Linked DNA regions of Homo sapiens: all the other regions are linked to region 1. Evidence: fine-mapped expression QTL. A gene starts in region 1. Each other region holds a variant in brackets. All regions are shown on one strand. Distances are between the middles of the regions.

The links. PIP is the estimated chance that this variant, and not a neighbour inherited with it, causes the effect.
Region 2: its variant is the best candidate, but not a certain one, in a credible set for the expression of TES in whole blood (INTERVAL, PIP 0.66).
Region 3: its variant is the best candidate, but not a certain one, in a credible set for the expression of TES in left ventricle (GTEx, PIP 0.80).
Region 4: its variant is the best candidate, but not a certain one, in a credible set for the expression of TES in thyroid (GTEx, PIP 0.67).

Annotation. Positions count from the first base shown.
Region 1 is chr7:116,208,762-116,212,930 of GRCh38, reverse strand. TES (testin LIM domain protein) reads right to left here and starts at 2,392. Exons shown (of 7, transcript NM_015641.4): 1 at 2,197-2,392. The coding sequence starts at 2,223. RefSeq lists an enhancer at 1,464-1,703 and silencers at 2,064-2,153, 2,294-2,493, 2,248-2,510, 2,544-2,673.
Region 2 is chr7:116,245,802-116,249,970 of GRCh38, reverse strand. It overlaps TES (testin LIM domain protein), which reads right to left. Exons shown (of 7, transcript NM_015641.4): 3 at 699-951. The region is part of intron 1 of LOC124901730 (a long non-coding RNA gene); the gene reads left to right. Among named protein-coding and RNA genes, the nearest start is that of TES, 37 kb to the right of the region's middle. The variant A/T (reference allele first, on the strand shown) is at 1,826.
Region 3 is chr7:116,345,900-116,350,068 of GRCh38, reverse strand. It overlaps LOC124900233 (a long non-coding RNA gene), which reads right to left. Exons shown (of 3, transcript XR_007060487.1): 3 at 552-710. Among named protein-coding and RNA genes, the nearest start is that of TES, 140 kb to the right of the region's middle. The variant A/G (reference allele first, on the strand shown) is at 2,108.
Region 4 is chr7:116,286,074-116,290,242 of GRCh38, reverse strand. LOC102724434 (a long non-coding RNA gene) reads left to right here and starts at 3,516. Exons shown (of 4, transcript NR_130922.1): 1 at 3,516-3,544; 2 at 4,048-4,131. LOC105375463 (a long non-coding RNA gene) reads right to left here. Exons shown (of 7, transcript XR_001745336.2): 2 at 2,129-2,196; 3 at 193-391. The variant C/A (reference allele first, on the strand shown) is at 2,338.

The DNA of each region.
Region 1 (4,169 bases):
ACAGGGATTTGTTATATCATGGGATTCTCTCTAAAACCTTTAATTTATGGAATTCTTTCTGGGGTGGTAGAGGCGGAGAAGAGGAGGATTAGAGAAAGTTAAGATTCTTGGTTGAAAATATAACTTTTAAAAGTAAAGTGGGGGATAAACGAGGAAAATTACACCATATGTCAAGGGCATTATTTATCATAATCCACATTTTCAAACTCTAAGGAAATTGTTTATAAACAACGTCTGGATTTTTCCTTTGCAAGCATATACAATTTTTAAGTTTGAACTTCTTCCCTCAGAATTACTCCTTGTCTCAAAAAGTTTCAAAAATGTCTTTGATTTTTCTCCCCCTATTAAACAGACTTTATTTTTAAAGCATTTTTTAGCTTCACAGCAAAATTGAGCAGAAAATTCGAAGTTCCCATGTACCTCCCCCATGCCTTCCTGTCTCCAGCAGCCTCCCGGACTACCAACAACCCGTATCAGTGCAGTACATTTGTTACAAGTGATGAAACACATTGACACATCATTATCCCCAACATACATAGTTTACATTAGGGTTTACTCTTGGTGTTCTACATTCTATGGATTTTGATTAATGTATAATTACATGTATCAGCCATTTTATAGTATCATACAGAATAGTGTCATTACCCTAAAAATCCTGTGCTTCACCTGTTCATCCTCGGCAGCCCAAAATATGTTTACTTTTGCAAAGTTGTCTTCAAATAAATACTTAAAAGCAAGGACAAGACCCCCCAAGTTTTAGACAAGTACTAAATTAAGTAGCTCTTACCTACTTGAAAACTAAATGAGAGTAGTATTCATCAACAGAAAGCTAAGCGGGCAAAATGCTTTCCCCGCTTTTCCCCCATGACAAGCAAGATTAACCAAAAATATTACAGTTATTTAAAAGAAAAAAAGAAAGAAACCAAATGGGAAGAGAATAGAATGCAATCACGCTACCATTAACAATTTATGTTTTTCTGTTCTTGGATACCTTTTTGAGTGCCTGAGAATTTTAGTCGCAAGGAATGAAAAAAACTGTTTTCTCATTTCGAGTTTTTATTGGTCAATAGCTTCCTAACCGAAAACTCTGCAGTCCTAACACAATATTTTGTATCCATTTTCAAAAATCCAGTTCTGGGCATAAAATAGAATTAATGCTCAAGTCAAAAACTTTGTGTTTAGAAGATAAAATATTAGGAACCATGAGTATGAGAAAAACAAAAACTGTTTTCTGTATTTTTCCCTTCCTCTCTCTGCAAAACTTCTCTATTTGATAAGGGACAGCTAGCTTAAATTTACCACAAAGTAAAACATGAGCAAATCCCCTGGAACGAGGAGAACTTTCGCACAGGGCAATTCACTCGAATGTGACATCAGCATTCCTTCTGAGTCATAGTCTGGTCCCCACCCTTTTCTCCCAGGCGACACCAGGCTCCGCATAACCCGGGAGTGGCTCAGGTAGGGCCGTCGGTTCCAGTGCCTGCGAGGCAGCAGCCAAGCTGAAAATGTCTCCCTGCGCTGAGACGCTGGTGACAACCGCCCTTTGGGACTACCTGCCAAACAAGGAGAATGCGCTCTTTGACAGATAATTCCCTAAGAGGGAGGCACTGCCTCGGTCGGTAGACAAGTAATGAATGACCGAAAAAAAAATCACATTAGAAGTTATCACCAGCACGGGTGCGAAGGCAGTGCATTAAATCAACACTCATTTTAGAGCGCCCCAGACAGCCCAGCCGGAAGGGAGGAGATCAGAGCTGTCAAAGCACAGCAGAGCCCCAAACCACAAAGGCTTAATGAAATTCAACTTCCTGAGCCAGGAAGTGTCACGGTCTCGCCCGCACTCGCCCTAAGCTCGTCCTTTCCTTTTGAGGAGGCACAGGCAGAGCTGAAACATCTTAAGTAAAGTTTCCAACACCTACAACCACTGGGATTCCGTGAGACTGGAGAGAAGAGTCCCGCGCCCGCCCTCGCTCGCGCTTCCAATTCTGTCGCTCCCGAGTGTGGGGAGCTGGCGGGGCCGCCGAGCACCTCCTCTACCCAGGGGGCCAGGTCCCTGGGCCCGGGGCACCGCAGACCCAGAGCCGGGCTCACACCGGGGGGCCCGCGAGCCCCACCCACCTCGGCACCTCCGGCCGCCGCGCGCCGCGCGACCCGCGCAGGTGAAGCAGCCGCCGCCCGCCACGAGCGCCCCCCTACCTTCTTCACTTTGTTTTCCAGGTCCATGTTAACGCGTCCTATGGGTCCCCTCCTCCTCCTATCCGGGATCCCACGGCCGGGTTCAGCTGGCCTCCGGCTCCGCTGCGAACACGGGAAACCTGCGGAACTCCCGCGGCGCCGCTCAACAGCCACTCGCCCGGCGCCGTCGAACTTCCGCCGCCCAGTCCGCCGCAGCGGGCCTGCGGCCCGGACCCGGGAACAAAGGGGGCCGGGCAGCCAATGGCAGCCGGGCAGCTCCGGGCCGCCGCCAATCACCGAGCGCCGCACGCACCTTCGCGGCCCGAGCGCGGCGCTGGCAAGGTGAGAGGCGGGGCGGCGTCCGAGGCGGCGCCCTGCTGGGCAAGCTCAGTGACCCTGACCTGGTCTCCGAAGGGATTCTCTGGGCGTCCACGGGCCGGCTTCTAAAGAGCTGGGATCCCCAGCCTCCCTCTAGCTGAAGATGGAGAAGAACTTTTTCCATTTGGCAATTTGTACCTGTGTTTGCCCAGGACTTTTTATTTGGGTCAAGGGGAATAGTTATCCCAATACTAACTTCTCAGTTTATTTTCAGGGTAAAGAGAGAAAAAAAAGAGAGAGAGAGAGATTGTAGGGATCGTTAGGGATTCCTGTGATGGACCTTGGGCACTAAATTCAATATTGCGTTGTGGAGATGCCCTTTCCTCAATTGCTTTTTTCCACAATCCCAAATACTGTCAAGAAACCGTATCTTACATCCCTAAAGTCAGCGAAGATTCTTAGATTGTTTTCTGAGCATTGGGTTGTTCAAAAGTAAAGATGATGTGAATCACTTCAGAAACAGGTTGTGTCATTCCTTTGGAAGCAGAGGGTTGCCCTTTGTCTCTGTGTGAGATGGTGCTAGGCCTATCGCGTGCTCAGGCTTTGATGAAGCAGAGTCATCACATTGGTGCACCAAAGCTGAATTCATTTCATGCCCTAATTCAGGAGCAATTGCATCTAATACCATCAGATTGGTCGGTCTGGAAGGGAGCCTAACGATTACTTAGTCTAGCTTCCTCACTTTGCAGGGAACTGAGGACTCCAGAGGTGCAGGGACCTGCCTAATGTCTTAGCCTGTTGGGGACAGAGGCATTGCTCATGAATCTAAACAACTTCTCAAAGATGTTTGGGGCTGGAAGCACAGCATGTTGACTAAGGAAAAAGAGCAGTCAATTTTCTTCAATTTGTGGTTATGGCAAAAAATAACATTGCCCAGACAGCAGGTGACCTAATTTGGCACCTACTTTTAAAAATAACAAAACAATATAAAACAAACAAACAAAAATTCCCTAATAATGCAGATATTCAGGTCCAGATGTATGTCTGCCTTGCCTCGAGAAATTTGGTAGCTAAAAATATCCAAAATTCATTTTAGCCAATACTTGCAACTCTGCTTACTTGATTATTTGTTAACACAGAGCATTGATTTATAATGTGCATGTTTCCTTTATCCTATTAAGAATTAAAACTGAAATTACCAAAATGAGTTATGCATTTTTCTTTTCAGCTGATGTAAAACTTTTCTGTGTCATTTTCCCAAACCACCTTGAAAGGTGTGGGCCCCTGCAAAGTCTGCCCGTTGTAAGTGTATAGGATCATGAGGTCTAGCTATGACAAGGCAATTTTGTTTCTTTCAGAGAGCTTAACAGATGGAAAATGTCCAGTAAAGCAATTTAAATAAGGCATCAAACAAATGTTGTAACATAAATTTTGGACCCTTATTTGATGAGGTTGCAGAGATGACACTAAGAAAACCATCTGGAAACTTTTTTTTTTTAACTGTCAACTTCTGCCTTTCTCCCATTCTTCCTTCCCAACCCTCTCAGCATTACATTGTGTGTGTGTATCATTGGCAAGGATGGAAATAGAAATTCAGTGAGTTTTATCTGGAATTATCACTGTGCCAATTATATAAAAATAATTATAGATTATGTATAAATTATAAAAATAAAATT
Region 2 (4,169 bases), 37 kb before region 1:
TAACACTTTCTCTCCATGAAATTATATATTTTTTCAGTTTGTAAGATCTGAGTTACTACTGTTTACTTAAGCTAAATAAACAAATGTACAATTGAAAGAAAACATAAACTTTTAGGCAGACATGTTTGGAATGGTCTGTAGGACCAGGAACATTTTTATTACATAAAAAATGATATCGCAAAATTCACTTTAATGATTTAACTAACCTTAAAAGACTTCCAAATGTTTCATTTGGTTGTTATAATAGTGGAAGGAGCTTGATATAAAACTGTGATCTTTTTGGTCTTATATAGTATTAATAAAGGAAATGAAAAAAACACAAAGATAATGTTGAATATTTTTTTCAGTTCTAAACTATGACAAAAATTCTCTTCTTTACCATCTTAAGATAAATCCTCTCAAGACTAAGCTAGAAGAGTTACTAGATTGATATAAAACATCTGATTTCCATCTAATTATTAAGAACGTTAGACCATTCCCTCAAAAAGGTAAACATATCTAGGGAGTTGGAAAAATTTTATGAAGTATCTAGTCTTACATTCAAAAGACTAGAACAGGAATCAGAAGTCAAAGTAATGAGAACCCCGGAAGAATAACAGATCTGGGATGTGTGAAGTTGATTAGGTCATCAAAGAAACTGCCCCAAATAAATACTCCAGGAACTTCAATAAAGAAACTCTCTGTTCCATATCATTTACCAATGCTTGATTCTGGACAGGAGGAGCCCACTCATAGGTAACTGTATTGATGGAGACATTCTTCTTGGCAGCAACTGGATTCGTCAATATCATAACATTGCGTTTATACATGGGAATTCCATCTGACTTTAGTTTTGCAATCAGAGTGGTATACTTGGTGTCTTCAAAAAGTTTTCCCACTTTTCGATCCTCTTCATTGCTCAAGAGGACATCATGCTCTTCTTGGCCACACTTGCAGTTACGACATATTTTTCTATAATTTTGAAAATAAGTAGAAAATGATTAATTGTACCTAATTGATATTTATGTTCATACATTTATAGTTCATAAAATACTTTTAGGCCTATTCTATATCATGGTATGCAAAGGCAAGTCCTTTTTTAGGAGGGAGAATAAGTATCCATATATTTAAGCAAGAAGGAAACAAAACACGACTTTGCTTGATAAGGCTTTTAAAAGCTAGGTTGTAAAAATTGAAAGAGGGACCCAATTAAACTGAAGAGCTTCTACAAAGCAAAAGAAACTGGCAACAGGACAAACAGACAACCTATAGAATGGAAGAAAATATTTGCAAATCCTGCAACTGACAAAGGTCTAATATTCAGAATCTATAAGGAACAATTCAACAAGCAAAAGACAACCCCATTAAAAAATGGGCAAAGGACATGAACAGATATTTCTCAAAAGAAGATATACATATGGCCAAAAAATATATGAAAACATGCTCAATATCACTAATCATTAAGGAATGCAAATCAAAACGATGATGAGATGCCATCTTCCATCAGTCGGAATAGCTATTACTAAAAAGTCAAAAAATAACAGATGTTGCGGAGAAAAGGGAATGCTTATACACTGTTGGTGAGAATGTAAATTAGTTCAGCCACTGTGGAAAGCAGTTTGGAGATTTCTCAAAGAACTTAGAACTATCATTCAACCCAGCAATCCCAAAGGAAAATGCATTGTTCCACCAAAAGGACAATGCACCCGTATGTTTATCACAGTAGTATTCACAATAGAAAAGACATGGTGGAATCAACCTAGACGCCCATCAATGGTAGACTGGATAAAGAAAATGTGGAACATATTCACCATAGAATACTATGCAGCCATAAAAAAAGAATGAA[A/T]TCATGTCCTTTGAAGCAAAATGAATGCAGCTGGAAGTCATTATCTTAAGTGAATTAATACAGGAAAGGAAAACCAAATACCACATATTCTCACTTATAAGTGGGAGCTAAATATTGAGTACACATGGACACAAAGATGGAACTAACAGACACTAGGGAATATTAGAGTGGGGAGGGTGAGAGGGAGAAACGTTTGAAAAGCTAACTCTCAGGTACTATGGTCACTACCTGGGTGATGGGATCATTTATAACCCAAGCCTCAGTAACATGCAATTTACCCATGTAAAACACCTGCACTGCACAGGTACATTCTGAACCTAAAATGGAAGGTGAAAAAAAGAGGAAAGCAGCAGAATTATCAGTCACTAATAATGTATTTTTGGAAATTACTGAATTAAGTTTTGTGATTTAGATGGTACCATAACGTTTCAACTGAATTTTCTAAGTAAGTATTTTAACAAATTCAGTGTGTTTTGTCAACCAAACGTGCATCTGCATTTCTGATATGATAACGAGAAGCAATTATTCATTTGATTTTTATCAAAACCAACCAAGATTTTTTCAATGAATTCACTGAAAGAAGTGGTGATGGCCCCAATAATAGACATCTTCAATTGTACCATTAAAAAAAAAGACTGATTAAAAAGTGCACACTTAAAGGGACATGTCTGAGTGTAACCCCATCTGATATTCCTTATGCTGTCACCCAATAGTGAATAAAATAAATAATAAAAAGAAATGAATTAAATAAAACCACAAAAATTATATGTTTCCTTATTTAAGCAAGAGGCTTTGTACTTTATTGCATGTTAACATTTTATAGCTATTATCCAAGGTTTCTTGTTTGTTTGTTTTTTTAGTGAGAGACAGGGAAACTTTTCCCATCAAAGATTATAATCCTAGATTTAGGTTTACAGCCTTTCTCATTTTTTTCTCAATTTCTTTTGCCCTCCATTTCCTTCCCTTTGTTTTTCCTTTCTCTTTCCTTCCCTTATTTTATTTCTTCAAACACTTATTGCCACCTACCATGTGCTCTCTGCCATCATGGTGTTTCTTATAGTTCAAGGACAATGTTCTCTTCTTCACTCTGGTCTGGCACACAGACATTCATTCATTCATGCAACATACACGAGTGCCCATGTGCCAAGCAATGTACTTGACACTAGGACATAGTGCTTAAAAAAAAAAAAAAAAAAAAGGGGCCTAGTCTCTGATTTCTAGAACTTACTCTCTGGTGGGAGATAGACATTAAATAATCACACACACACACATACACAGAGAAAATTTCATTTGTGATAGGAAAGAAAGTATAGGGTCCCTTGAGAGGGTGTAATTTGGACTTCAAACTCGTGAAGAAGGGACCCCATAAGAAGATGATATTTAGGTTGAGATCTGGACGATGTATGAAACATAGGTGTAAACTGTGTATGTGGGTGTGTATCTGGGGAGGAGAAAAGGAAAGAAAAGTCTCTAGTATTGGGTATAAAGAGGAATACCTTCAGTGGTCCTGAATTAGGAAAGAAATTGTCCCCTTAGGTGTCATAACCAGGGGAGGTTGGTATGACTGTAGGAAGATGAGTCAATAGGAGGGTGATAAGACTGGAGAGGTAGGCATGAAGTCATGCAGGGGCTCATAGAACACATTAAGGAATTTGGGCTTCATCATAAGAGCAATCAGGAAGCAGCAAAGGCTTTTTGGTAATGGAATAAAATGATCAGATCTGTAATTTTAAATATCACAATATCTGCCATGTGGTAAATGGATTAGGGGTGAAACATAACTGGCAATAGGGAGACAAGCTAACATGTTAATTATGCATCCAGTTTGCAATGGCATGGTTCTAAATAACAGGATGCTGCCACTACTTCACAAATGGAATTTACATCTTGGAGGGTTATTGTTGTGGTCCAGGTAAAATATGCTATGGCTTGGATTAGAGTATTCAACAGTGGAGATGAAAAGAAAGGAAGAAATTTGAGGTCTCCTTGAACAAAAAACTGACTAAACTTAGTGGTTTATTTGGACATAGTGATGGCAAAGGGAAGGCTCAGTGATATGGTTTGGCTGTGACCCCACCCAAATTTCATCTTGAATCGTAGTTCCCATAATCCCCATGTGTTGTGGGAGAGATGTGGTAGGAGGTAATTGAATCATGAGGGCTGTTACCCTCATGCTATTCTCATGATAGTGATTGAGTTCTCTTGAGAGCTGATGGTTTTATAAGGGACTTTTTCCCCTTTTGCTCGGCACTTCTCCTTGCTGCCACAATGTAAAGAACATGTTTGCTTTGCGTTCCACCATGTTTGTAAGTTTCCTGAGGCCTCCTCAGCCATGCTGAACTGT
Region 3 (4,169 bases), 140 kb before region 1:
ATAAAAGAGGATGGCTCCTTACTTGCTATGACCTCTGCAATTTTGCCCCATTTGACAAAAGTGATTCTAAGAACTTTGCATATGTCCGATTTGATCCCGAATGAAATGACTGAAAGAAGATTCATTGACGATTTCATTGTGAAATCTGCTATAACATTATTCTGCTGCACATTATCAAAGAAGTGCCTTGCGTAGTAAAGTACAGAGATGGCACAACTTAGCACTGTGTACATTTTGCTAGTTCTGTGTTGAAAATATATATCTGAAAAATTTGACCGTTGTTTATGAGAAGTTTATTTCTATTATCCCACAAGACTGTCAGGTGTGCTCATGAAGCAGCAACAAAATAGCTGAATGAAAAATCTATTGTAGGATCTCCAAACATTCAGAAGCATAGCACGCTTTTTCTTTTACAGACTTTTGATTTTGTTGCCACAAGGCAGCATGTAATCTCATCATCATGTAAATCCTAGGGAGCAAATTTTCTGGCAGAAATCTTTCACTGTGCCCCAGAACAGCACTTTAAATGTAGGGTTTACCTGGGTCTTAGGGTGGAGGTTGCCTCAATTGCTTTCTAGAATTTCTTGTTGTTATCCAGCTTAATTTTGAAGAGTAGCTCGTCATCATTTCCTTTCTGCCTCACTCCATTCCTCTCTCCTCTTTTCTTCTCTCCTTCAACAAATGTTATCTCCAAACTGTATGATGAGTTTCTGGTGAACATACAAGTATTAAATATGATCCTTACCCTCACAAAACTTTCTTCTTGTGGGGAGAAAGTATAGAAGAAACATCACAACCATGCTGGCTGGTAAGAATTATATTTGGAGTGTTGTGGAAAACATAATTGGACACCTAACCAATCCTGGATGGAGCGGGACAGTTGAGTGAGAAAGTGTAGTGTTAGGGATGGTATCTGGAAGAGATGATCCCAGGTGGTGTTGGGAAGATGGAAGAGAGCCTGTTTAAAGATATGGGTGTGGAAAATGGAAGTAGACAAATGCATAAAGTCAAGGGATTAGGTGGCATCAAGGAAGTGGCAAATAGTTCTGTGTTACTGAAAAGCAAAGTAGATGGGTTGGGGAGGTTGGAGTACAAGAAGTGACTAGTGAGGTAGGCAGACTAAGTCAGGGATAATGTTGTATTTGTTTATGTTAAAGATTTTGGAATTTTGCTGAAGAAGTATGGAGACATTAAAGAATTTTAATGATCAAGTTTTCCTGTTACCCATATCATTCTAGTGATGTGTAGAGTATAGACTGGATGGCAAGTCTGGAGGTAAGAAAACCTATTAGAAGGCTATGGGAATCGTCCAAGGGAGAAATGATGAGGGTCTGATCTAAGGCAATGACAATGTGATGGAGATGAGAGGATGGGCTAGAGAGAATTTGAAAGGGTATAATGACAGGACTTGTGCTTAAATAGATTTGTTGAAAAAAAAGCACAAACAGGCCTTTGTCGATGAGGTCTTTATTGCTGTAAGACCATCTATTCCAACCATGTCTAAAGTCCCTGGAGATCCAACCAGAGGAATTCAAACTGAACAACTGCAAAAATTCGTAACTCCACAGAACACATATCAAACGCTCTGTGCTGTGTCACATGCTTGTGAAGGTCCATATTTGAGATTCTCCAAATTTTTTAACTTTTCTCAGGAAATATCCTCTCTAAATAACTACTGGAGATACAACAATTAATTTTTCTAGCATAGAGCCCCAGGATTAGCCTCCATATACTTTTCCTTCTAATAGGTAATTTGGTTTTTTTTTTCCAACTCTATCAGAAGCTTTATAATCCATGTCTTTTTAATAATTATTCTATAACAAAGACTCTTATCTAAAAAGTCATGGCAGCCATCATAATTTGACCTACTTGCAAAACTTTTTCTTTTCAGCTTTTTTGCTCTTCAATCAGTTAAAACTAATATTAATATATTATTTTAGTTTCTACATTGTTGTGTTACAGCTAGTGATTGTTTTTGCATTCTGCAAGCACAGGTGTCCACATGTAGTGAAGGCTGCCCCTGAGCTGTAGCTATTCTTTCGTGGAGCTTTGAAGGGTTTTCATACTCAGAGTGAGCAGTTAAGGGGAGCAAGCAGGGAAGCCAGGC[A/G]GGAAAATGGTGATTGGCCAAAGGACTGTCTGTGGAGCAGTAAAGTCAGTTGCAAGTCTTACCTTTTGTACATTAAATGGTGACAGTGACTTTTTACTCTCACTCTAAAATCCACATTGTATATGTCTAAAGAAATGGAATCATCAGCCTGAGGACTATGACATCTTGCTCATTTACTGAGGAGTCAGATTTTGTACAACTTCAGTGTACACCTGAACATGGGTGTAAGACAAGAAAGAGTGCCACACACCAGAATGGCTATTGAGAAGCTCAGAGGCTGGGTCTAGGCCCTTATTCTAAAATTCGCTGCCTTGAATCTAATGTTTCAGGTTGCAGCACCTGATTAAAGCCTTCTTCCTTGGCAATACTAATTGTTTCAGTGATTGGCTTTCTTTTGCAGCAAGCAATGGGACCTAGACCGAATCCCTGGCCTTTGTAGTAACAAAAGCAGCAAGAGAAAAGCAACCTGCCATATACAAGGGCTACTCAATAAGATTATGAGCAAATTTGTCATGAGAGAATTTGAAGGCCAACGGCAGTGGGCCAAAATATTAAGAGTGCTAAAAGTAAAACAAAGAGTAAGAGTAAGTAAGTAAAACAAAAAGTAAAAAGTAAAACAAAAAGTAAAAGTAAAAAAGGTCAACCTAGAATCTTATATCTAGCAAAATTGTCCATCAAAAGTAAGGCAGAAGTTAAGACATTCCCAGATAAAGAAAAGCTAAGGGAGTTCATTACAACTAGATATTCTCTGCAAGAAATACTCAAGGGAGTGTCCTGCAGGGTAAAATAAAAGGACACTAGAGAGTAATGTGAAGCCATATGAAGAAATACATATCTCAATAAAGGTAAATTCATAGACAATTATAGAAGCTAATATTATTGTCACAATGGTCTATTACTTTTGTTTTCTACATGGTTTAAAAGACTAATACATTAAAAATAATCTAAAAGCTGGTAATATTGTAATTTTGACTTATAAATCCACATTTTTTAACATAATTTAAGAGACTAATACCATTTAAATAATTATTAATGTATTTTGGACATCATGTATAAAGACATAATTGTGTGACATCAACAATTGAAAGGGGTGAGAATGAAGTTGTTAAAGGAACAGAGATTTTGTGTATTATTGAAGTTACTTTGGAACAAATTCAAATTAGAATGTTACAACTTTAGGAACTTAAGTGTAATCCCCATGATAACCACAAAATGTAGCTATAGAAAACAAACAGAAGAAATGTGAAAGGAATTTAAATGTTTCACTACAAAAAAATAAACACAAAAGAAGATAATGATATAGGATGTGAAGGATGAAAATGCTATAAGGCCTACAGAAAACAAATAGCAAAATGACAGAAGTATGTGCTTACTTAACAGTAATTGCTTTAAATGTAAGTGGCATAAGCTCTCAAATCAAAAGACAGAGATTGGCAGAATGAATAAAATACGTGATTCAAATATATGCTGTCTACAAAAGACTCACTTTAGATCCAAAGATACAAATAGATTGGAAGTGAAAGGATGGAAAAAGATATTTCATGCAGATAGTAACCAACATAGAGAAAGTCTGGCTATACTAACATCAGACAAAATAGTCTTTAAGTTTAAAAAGTTTACAAGGGACAAAAGAACATTATATATTAATGAAAGTTTTAGTATAGCAAGAAGATAGATCAATTATAAACATTTACTCACCTAATCACAGATCATGAAAATATATAAAATAAAAACTGACAAAATTGAAAGGAGAAATATAGTAGTATAATAATAGAGACTTCAATATCTTGGTTAAGAGGGTGTTGTTTAATTTCCACAATTCTGTGGAATTTTCCAGTTTTATTTCTGTTATTGATTTCTAACTTCATTCTCTAGAGATGAGAGAAGACATTTAATCAGATATCTATTTTTTTAAGTCTATTGAGACTTAATGTGTAGCCTAATATGTAGTGAATCCTGAAAAACATCCCAGATACAATTGAGAAGAATGTGTACATTGTTGTTGGGTAGAATGTTCTGTGTGTGTGTGTGTGTGTGTGTGTGTGTGTGTGTATATATATAT
Region 4 (4,169 bases), 77 kb before region 1:
TTGTGGGGTGGGGGGAGGGGGGAGGGAATAGCATTAGGAGATATACCTAATGTAAAAGTCGAGTTAATGGGTGCAGCACACCAACATGGCACATGTATGCATAAGTAACAAACCTGCACGTTGTGCACATGTACCCTAGAACTTAAAGTATTTTAAAAAATGATGTTAAAAGCAGGTACTGTGATCACTCACCTGATTTTTGTTTTTTATGAAGGTACTTTTTTGTTTAGATAGTTGTTCAATTTTGTTTTGATAGTTGTTCAATTCCTTTCGGGGAGATGATTGCTGGAGGCTTCTATTTGGCCATCTTGTTCCATCTCCTCCTGTATAGTACTTTTTAATGCTGTCTTATGATTTTCTGATCTTACACAAAGGTCTTAAGTACGTTTGCCTGCTCAGAGAAAAAAAAGTGTATCAAATGTAGGTCTTCCATAGTATGATTCATTTTAATTTTGAGGACTTTATTGGCTCATTACAAAAAATGTTTTCACTAATAATAACAACTTTCTTTTAAATCAAAACACATTATGAAAACACACAATTTTTTTTAGAAAAAGTGTTCAGTAAATATTATTTAACAATGCTTCTCTAACTTCAGCCAAACCAGAGAAGAGTAATTTATGGATTTTGAAAAGTTCATATGTGTAGTTTGCAGAAGTGATATTTGGTACATTCTTTGTGTAGTTGCCAAAATTTCTCCACCAAAAATTAGAACTCATTTGATAAAAATTGTTGACAAAAATAACCACAATAACAATACACAATGTATGATGTGAGAAGCTTATTAATATGATAAATAATATATCTTAAGCGTAATGAAAGAGTTTTTTAACTCCAAAAATTCAGTTTGTATTTAGTACAGCTAGAAGTTCTGTTACAAAAATGCATAAATTCAAGGTTCACTTCTTAATACCTAATTGGTTTTGCCCACTATTCTATAAATAATCCATAAAATTACATGTTCTTTACATCTTCTGTGATAATTAAAACAATATTTAACCAGATTTTAACAAATCTAGCTAATTGTTTCTTCTGTACTCAATTATTTCTACTTACTTCAAAAAAAGTAAACATCAGAACCAAGATCAGGTTTCACGTGTGAGAATTTGGAGTTTTTTTTTTTTAACATAACATCTAAATTTGAAGTACTCTAATTTTAAAAATTAGGATATGATGAATATTTATCAGAAGATCCTCTTTTTCAGATAGTTGAAAACTTTTGTGTATACATTCAGCATCAGAAATAACATATTGATTATTTTGGCTGGGCACGGTGGCTCACGCCTGTAATCCCAGCACTTTGGGAGGCCGAGGCAGGTGGATCATGAGGCCAGGAGGTCAAGAAATAACATATTGATTATTTTAATGGATTGATAGCCATCTTTAATGCCAATACAACATTATGCCTGTAAATTTAGCATTATTGCTTTTCATAAGAAAAAGAAATACAGTGGCATGTTATGCTTTTAAAATTTCCTGATTTGGCCAGGCGCGGTGGCTCACGCCTGTAATCCCAGCCCTTTGGGAGGCTGAGGTGGGTGGATCACAAGGTCAGCAGATTGAGACCAGCCTGGCTAACATGGTGAAACCCCGTCTCTACTAAAAATATAAAAAAAAAAAAAATTAGCTGGGCGTGGTGGCAGGCACCTGTGGTCCCAGCTACCTCAGAGGCTGAGGCAGGAGAATGGCATGAACCCAGGAGGCGGTGCTTGCAGTGAGCCGAGATGGCACCACTGCCCTCCAGCCTGGGCGACAGAGCAAGACTCCGTCTCAAAAAAAAAAAAAAAAAAAAATTCTTGATTTAAGGTAGCAAGGCTTTAAAAATAAATCTACAACTATTTCTTACAAACACTTCAAACTCTGAGAAAGATGAAAGCTAAACAAAGGACAATACTGGTATGAGTCATATATTTATTGAAAAGGAAACATAAAGAACTACCGTGCAGGCACACACTGCTGGACTGTAAATGAGGCTCATTTGAGGCTGGGGATACGTGAATGTGCTTGTTGTGCTGGGCCCAGGGAGCCTCTGGGCACAGCTCTTCATGGAAGTGGCCTGTAGGGTGAGTAGGGGTGAACCCCTTCCTGCAAGCCATGGACGGCAGAATACAGTGGAAATAAAACTTACTCGGTCTGGATGGCAGAATTAGAGATAGCATAGTGGCATGGGTTGACAGCCTCTCCTTCTCCCAATACCTATCCGAAACAAAACCCCAAAGTTAAAAATTCACCAATAGCTTAACAAGAAAAGATAAAACTTCTTTCCATAAAATGTGGAAAGTGATGACTTGATAGAGAGGAAAAAGAATCTTCTGGTTAAATATCATCCATGTACCC[C/A]AAACTGGCCAATGGTTTCTCATTTTCCTCAAAGTCCAAGTCCTTAAAATGCCTTCCAGGGCTCTCTATGACCTGGGTCCCAATACTGTGACTTCATCCCCTATTATTCTCCTGATTCACTCCTCACCGGTTGTGTTGGCCTCCTCACTGTGCCTCTAACATGCCGATCACTTTTCCAGTGCAGGCCCTTTCCATCTGTATTTCCTCTGCCAGAGCAGTTCTTCCCTGACAATGTACAGGGCTCATTCCTCCATTTTCTTCAGGTCTATGCTCAAAAGTCACCTTACCAGAGGTCCTTTCAGAACACCCTGTCCCAAACAGCAGACCCTATAGTCTCTGATATGCTTACTGTGATGGTTAATATTGAGTGTCAGCTTAATTAGACTGAAGGAAGCAAAGTATTGTTCCTGGGTGTGTCTGTGAGGGTGTTACCAGAGACTAACATTTGAGTCAGTGGATTGGGAGAGGCAGACCCACCTTTAATCTGAGTGGGCACCATCTAATCAGCTGCCAGCATGGTTAGAATAAAGCAGGCAGAAGAACTTGGAAGGAGCAGACTTGCTGAGTCTTCTAGCCTTCATCCTCCTCCTGTGCTGGATGCTTCCTGCCCTCAAACATCAGACTCCAAGTTTTCCAGCTCTTGGCCTCTTGAACCGACACCAGTGGTTTGCCACAGTCTCTCGGGCCTTCAGCCACAGACTGAAGGCTGAACTGTCCACTTCCTTACTTTTGAGGTTTTGGGACTCGGACTGGCTTCCTTGTTCCTCAGCCTGCAGACGGCCTATTGTGGGGCCTTGTGATTGTGTGAGTCAATAATCTTTAATAAACTCCCCCTCATATATACATCTATCCTATTAGTTCTGTCCCTCTAGAGAACCCTGGCTAAACACTTATTTCATTTTTGTCTATAACACTTATACAACCTGGCTTATATAAATCTGTTTTGTTATTCATTCATTGTTGTCACGTCAACAATAGTAATATTCATAGTTCAGGCACATTGTGTATTTTGTTCACTGCTGTAAAACTAAAATGATACTTGGCACAGAGTTGACACTCAGAAATATGTGTTGAATAAGTAAATTCTGGTGTGGCATAGAGTTCTGGCTGTGGTCCCATCCTGCAGAAGCAAAATTCTTTTAGTATTGTGAGGTCACAGAGTCATGGCATTCTCACTCGCATCTTCCATGGGGAGACAGGTGGAATGGTGAGGTACCCTTGGAAGGTTAAGAGAAAAATTTAGTAAACACTTTTGAGTATATAGACTCTTGCTGCATGATCCCACTGTGTAAGAATTTGCTTATTTCCAGGGCTTCATACCAAGATGGGTATAGCAGAAGCCTACCTGTATGATAAAGGAGTGAATACACTCCCAGCTGGGTGCAGGGGGGCCTGCCAGAGTATCTTTAACAGTGTTTCAGAAAGGAAGTATGTGGCTTCATTGGAGTATTCCCTTTCTTCTCCTTCCTAGCCTCAGTTTACAGAAAGTGGAAAGAAAGTAATATCCAGCTTTCAAAATTAGAGCCAAAATGTCCTACAAGAGATGGCAAGGATGGCAATCAAACAGATTTTACTATGTAATATCCAAGTTACAAATGAACAAGATGTAGAAATATGACCCCTCAATCAATAGATATATAGATCTATTGAGGAATATGTGAAGAATGAATGTAGACATTGATTTTTCTTCTTACTTTTCTTCCAATTAAGCAATCTCTATCTGTGAACCTGTAGTCAATTCAGAGTTCCCCAGACTGGCGTTCTGTTACAGAGGGAGTTTAGATTCAACTTCAGGTGAGTGATGGAGACCCTCTAGGCTGAGCTCCAAGGTG